Linked DNA regions of Homo sapiens: region 1 is linked to region 2. Evidence: fine-mapped expression QTL. A gene starts in region 2. The other region holds a variant in brackets. All regions are shown on one strand. Distances are between the middles of the regions.

Region 1 (2,500 bases), 50 kb after region 2:
GGTGGGGGGGTCAGCCCCCCGCCTGGCCAGCCGCCCCGTCCGGGAGGTGAGGGGCGCCTCTGCCCGGCCGCCCCTACTGGGAAGTGAGGAGCCCCTCTGCCCGGCCAGCCGCCCTGTCCGGGAGGGAGGTGAGGGAATCAGCCCCCCGCCCGGCCAGCCGCCCCGTCCGGGAGGGAGGTGGGGGGCTCAGCCCCCCGCCGGGCCAGCCGCTCCGTCCGGGAGGGAGGTGGGGGGGCGGTCAGCGCCCCCTCCCGGCCAGCCACCCCGTCTGGGAGGGAGGTGGGGGGGTCAGCCCCCTACCCGGCCAGCCGCCCCGTCCGGGAGGGAGGTGGGGGGGTCAGCCCCCCGCCTGGCCAGCCACCCGGTCCAGGAGCTGAGGGGCGCCTCTGCCCGGCCGCCCCTACTGGGAAGTGAGGAGCCCCTCTGCCCGGCCACCACCCCGTCTGGGAGGTGTACCCAACAGCTCATTGAGAATGGGCCATGATGACGATGGCGGTTTTCTGGAATAGAAAAGGGGGCAAGGTGGGGAAAAGATTGAGAAATCGGATGGTTGCCGTGTCTGTGTAGAAAGAAGTAGACATGGGAGACTTTTCATTTTGTTCTGTACTAAGAAAAATTCTTCTGCCTTGGGATCCTGTTGATCTATGACCTTACCCCCAACCCTGTGCTCTCTGAAACATGTGCTGTGTCCACTCAGGGTTAAATGGATTAAGGGCGGTGCAAGATGTGCTTTGTTAAACAGATGCTTGAAGGCAGCATGCTCGTTAAGAGTCATTACCACTCCCTAATCTCAAGTACCCAGGGACACAAACACTCTGCCTAGGAAAACCAGAGACCTTTGTTCACTTGTTTGTCTGCTGACCTTCCCTCCACTAGTGTCCTATGACCCTGCCAAATCCCCCTCTGTGAGAAACACCCAAGAATGATCAATAAAAAAAAAAAAAGGCCTGTGATTCCAGCTACTTGAGAGGCTGAGGTGGGAGGATTGCTTAAGGCCATGAGTTC[G/A]AGACCAGCCTGGGCAACACAGCAAGGCCTTGTTTCAAAAACAATTTTTTTAAAGTAGCTGGATGTGATGGTGCACACCTGTAGTCCCAGGTACTCAGGAGGCTGAGGAAGGAGGATCACTAGAGCCCAGGAGTTCAAGGCTACAGCGAGCTATGATCACGTCATTGCACCCTAGCCTGGGTGACACAGCAAGACCTCATCTCTTATAGAAAAAAAAAACAAAACAACAACAACAAAAAACCCACTAAATTCTTTACTTTTAACCATGTATGTAAGAGCCAGAGCCAGTTAGCAAACCACTAGTACTAAAAATACTAGTTTCTTCCTCAAAGGAAAAGTGATCTTTCAAGAAAATCCTCAACTGACTATTCATTTAAGACATATTTATCTACATTATTAAAGGTGCTTCTGCTTTCTCAACTACAAATAAGAACTTGAGCTTTGTAAGCAAACAGACCTGCTTAGAAATATGGCTCTTCCCTGTACTGGCTTAGTGTCCTTAAGCAACTTACTTATCCCCTTAAACCAGTTTCCTTGCCTACAAAATGAGGATAAAAATCATGTACTTGAACCAGATGTGGTGGCTCACACCTATAATCCCAGCACTTTGGGAGGCTGAGGCGGGCGGATCACGAGGTCAGGAGTTCAAGACCAGCCTGGCCAACATGGTGAAACCTCGTCTCTACTAAAAGTACAAAAAAAAATCATGTACTTACCTCACAGATTATTGGGAAGATAAAAAACATAATACAGGCCAGGCCGAGGTGGGCAGATCACTTGAGGTTGGGAGATCGAGACCAGCCTGACCAACATGAGAGACCCTGTCTCTACTAAAAATACAAAATTAGCCAGGCGTGGTGGCGCGCCTGTAATCCCAGCTACTCGGGGGGCTGAGGCAGGAGAATCGCTTGAACCCAGACCCAGGAGGCGGAGGTTGCGGTGAGCCGAGATCGCACCATTGCACTCCAGCTTGGGCAACAAGAGTGAAACTTGTCTCAAAAAAAACAAACCAAAAACAAAAACCAAACATAATACATGTAAAGCACTAAGAACAGTGCCTGATATATCATTAAGTAATCAGGAAATGTTATTTTTATTAATATAATAATAAATTACTAAGGTTTTGTGAAGATTAATAGATCACTGTAGGCACACCATAAATGTTAACTATTATGTTTACTAAGAATATGCTGGCAAGAAGCAGTCTTTATTACATCAAAACAGAAGTAAAAACGGTTACCCAGTTTTTTTGAATATGCATCCAACTTGTAAGCTGCCTGCTCAAGAGCTGCTACCTGCTCTTCAATGACATTGATCTGATCCAGATAAGGCTGCAGTCCAGCATCTTTAAAAACAAAGAAAAACTTCATGTTTATATGGCTTTATTAACAAAGAATATAGGAAAAGAGTGGAAAAGTAATAATGCTAGTGTCTCTCCAGCTATGCTAAGACAGATTAGGTGGCGTGACATGATTCTGAGCACTAGCAGGGCAGA
Region 2 (3,016 bases):
CCTAGAACAACACTTTTTATCTTGACATTTCCTTAAGGCCAATTAATGAGGAGCATTATGATCATAGCAGCAACAACAACAAAGTAGCAGCAGGTGCTAACAGTTGAGGGCTTTCATGGGTCAGGTACCGTATTTAGCTTTACACACATTACTATTTTATTTAACTCTCAAATCCATGATGCATGTAATTATTATACTATACTTACTTTACAGGCAACAAAACAAAGCCTATATTACAGGAATTATTAGTCCAGGGTCTATTTACCTAAAATGTCCTTTAGGAAGGCACGAACCTCTCAAATGGCAATGCATGGTTGTGTGAATGTGCATCTGTGCATTTTTCTGGGGAAAGGGTTCACAGCTTTTATCGGTATATCAAAAAATACATGTCCCAGGCCTGGTGCCGTGGCTCACGCCTATAATCTCTGCACTTTGGGAGCCTGAGACAGGTGGATCGCCTGAGGTCAGGAGTTCGAGACCAGCCTGGCCAACATGGTGAAACCCCGTCTCTACTAAAAATACAAAAAAATTAGCCAGGCACGGTGGCGGGCGCCTGTAATCCCAGCTACTCAGGAGGCTGTGGCAGGAGAATCGCTTGAACTCGGGAGGAGGAGGCTGCAGTGAGCCGAGATCGCGCCCTGCATTCCAGCCTGGGCGACAGAGTGAGACTCCGTCTCAAAAACAAAAACAAACAAACAAGACCCAAATATGATTTTTTAACTGCTACTACAATGGTTAAACATTCTCTATTAAATCAAAGTAAAATTCTTGAGTCTGATGTTAACTGTCCTCCACCTACTAGAGCGCCCCCCATCTCCATCTACTAATATAGCCTTTCGTTTGAAGCCATGCTCTGCACCAACTCACCCTCATACTGTCCCGACCTGGAATACATCCCCAATTCCAAAGCCCATCCATGCTTCCAAAGGCTTAACTCTGGACCCATCATGAAGCCTTCCTTGTCTACTCCAGTCCCCACTGATATCATATGGCCTCCAAGCGCGCGCGCGCGCGCGCACACACACACACACACACACACACACACACACGGACGCACACATTCCCAAAGGCAGTCCCCTTCAGCCCTCTTCTCACACATTCGTGCTCCTACATACACACTGTGACGTGCATCTGCCTCACACACCCTGACACTCCACATTCACAGAGACACACACGCACTGTCACACTCACTAAACACCTGGTCACAGCCTGACAGTCATACCCAAGTTCCCCGCAACAGCTCTATCTATGCCCAGTACCTCAAATACAACTTTGGACACACAGGCATAGTATCTTTCTCTCTAATACACACACACAAGCCCACTGGCCCCCAAATACTGCCCAAGGTCCCACCAACCATCTATCCCACACTGTCAGCCCTGTGTTCCACAGACGCTCAAACCCACCGCCGCTCCAACCCACCGCCGCTCCCTCTCACGCCCCGCCTCACCCGATGCTGGTACAGACAGACGTTCCCGAAGCCGCCGGTGCCCAGCCGCTCCCGCATCTCCCAGGGCCCGCCCGCGCCCGGCCGCAGCCCCGGGGGCCGCTCCATGGGGCGGGAGGGCAAGCGGCCTCAGGTTCCACAGTTGTTCCAAGGCCGGTTCCGGGCCGCCGATGCTCGCGCGTCTTTGTTCTCGCGAGAATGAATGCGTCACTTCCGGTAACCGCTGCGAGAAGGCCCTTCCCTAAGTTCTCCCAGGGCGCTGCCAGAGCCCTGCCGGCTAAGGGATGGGGAAACAAACAGGTACTCGGTCCGCTCTTTAAGTCCCCTACGTATTTTCCGGGAGGGCTGAACGGAACCACAATGTTTTTCTAGTCTTGGAAAACATAAGATCTCTCCAAACCCCACATTCCCGTCAAATCCACTTTTCAAAGCAGCCCAGTCTCTCCTGTATTTTTTTCTTTTTAATTAAGATGGGGTCTCGCTCCGTTGCCCAGGCTGGAGTGCAATGGCACGATCACGGCTCACTGCAGCCTCGACCTCCCGGAATTAAGCGATCTTCTCACCTCCCGAGTAGCTGGGATTGCAGGCGCGCACCACCTCGCTTGGCTAATTTTTTATTTTTTGTAGAGACATGGTCTTGCTACGTTGCCCAGGCTGGTCCCGAACTCCTGGTCTCAAGTAGTCCTCCCACCTTGGCATCCCAGAGTGCTGGGATTATAGACATGAGCCACCGCGTCCAGCAATTAGTCTTTTCTAAACTTCATATTGTCTCTACTCCTATCTACACTTCACCTTTCTTCAGATCCCTGCCATCTATCCTCCAACTCCACCACCAGCTGATCCGGCACGCTAAAGACCACCAATGATTTAAAGGCTGCGAAATCGTTAAAATACTACGCTAGCAGGCCCACTAATGAATTAGCCTTCTTGTTCACTGACTTCCCAATACACCTGCTCCAGGATATCCCCTGTCATCCCAAATGACTCAAGAATGTGACGCTATTCCGGAGTGAAGAGTGTTTCTCGGGATTTCGCGAGCTTTTTTCCTAGATGCCTCACAGAGCTTGCTGTCCGGCAGTCCAGTTATGGGTTTGCCAGCACAGTAGTTCATTGTGAGAAGTGTTTCTAATGGGTGCTACAGGGCTGCAGAGGCAAGCTTTGGGAATGCTGTTGGTGCAGCAAGTGCTTCCGGGTGGCGGATTGCCATAGCATAGGGGAAACAACTCCTGGTCTTCCATTTAAGAGGGTCATACCTTCACTGTACCTGGGGGATCTCAATACTCCAAGTAAAGGAATCAGCATGGAATCAAATTATTGATAAATGTGATGCTGCAACCAGAATGTTGAGCACTGCATGATACAGACGAAGTCGATGTTGTAGGTCATTAGTAACATGTGGTATGGGAGGTTCTGGTTTCTGTAAGTGCATGGTTTCCATGGACTTGGAGATGATGATGCCTCTGAGGACATGTCATTTAGAGCTGGGCAGACCGCACAGAGAATTGTGGTACAGATTGTTGTAACAGTATGAAGCCCTCTCATTTGCTGTATGTACAGCATGGCCAGTGC

Alleles and levels. Positions count from the first base shown, and alleles are read on the strand shown. Sizes are in standard deviations (SD) of each study's normalised expression.
In carriers of allele G in region 1, the expression in thyroid of the gene that starts at base 1,683 in region 2 tends to be lower than with A alone (small effect, 0.29 SD a copy in GTEx).

The links. PIP is the estimated chance that this variant, and not a neighbour inherited with it, causes the effect. A credible set is the group of variants that fine-mapping cannot tell apart.
Region 1: its variant is the best candidate, but not a certain one, in a credible set for the expression of CHUK-DT in thyroid (GTEx, PIP 0.56).

The regions. Positions count from the first base shown.
Region 1 is chr10:100,277,879-100,280,378 of GRCh38, forward strand. It overlaps BLOC1S2 (biogenesis of lysosomal organelles complex 1 subunit 2), which reads right to left. Exons shown (of 5, transcript NM_173809.5): 4 at 2,246-2,350. Among named protein-coding and RNA genes, the nearest start is that of BLOC1S2, 7.6 kb to the right of the region's middle. The variant G/A (reference allele first, on the strand shown) is at 1,006.
Region 2 is chr10:100,227,978-100,230,993 of GRCh38, forward strand. CHUK-DT (CHUK divergent transcript) reads left to right here and starts at 1,683. Exons shown (of 4, transcript NR_186419.1): 1 at 1,683-1,747. CHUK (component of inhibitor of nuclear factor kappa B kinase complex) reads right to left here and starts at 1,619. Exons shown (of 21, transcript NM_001278.5): 1 at 1,451-1,619. The coding sequence starts at 1,555. RefSeq lists silencers at 1,357-1,596, 2,666-2,928 and an enhancer at 1,707-1,756.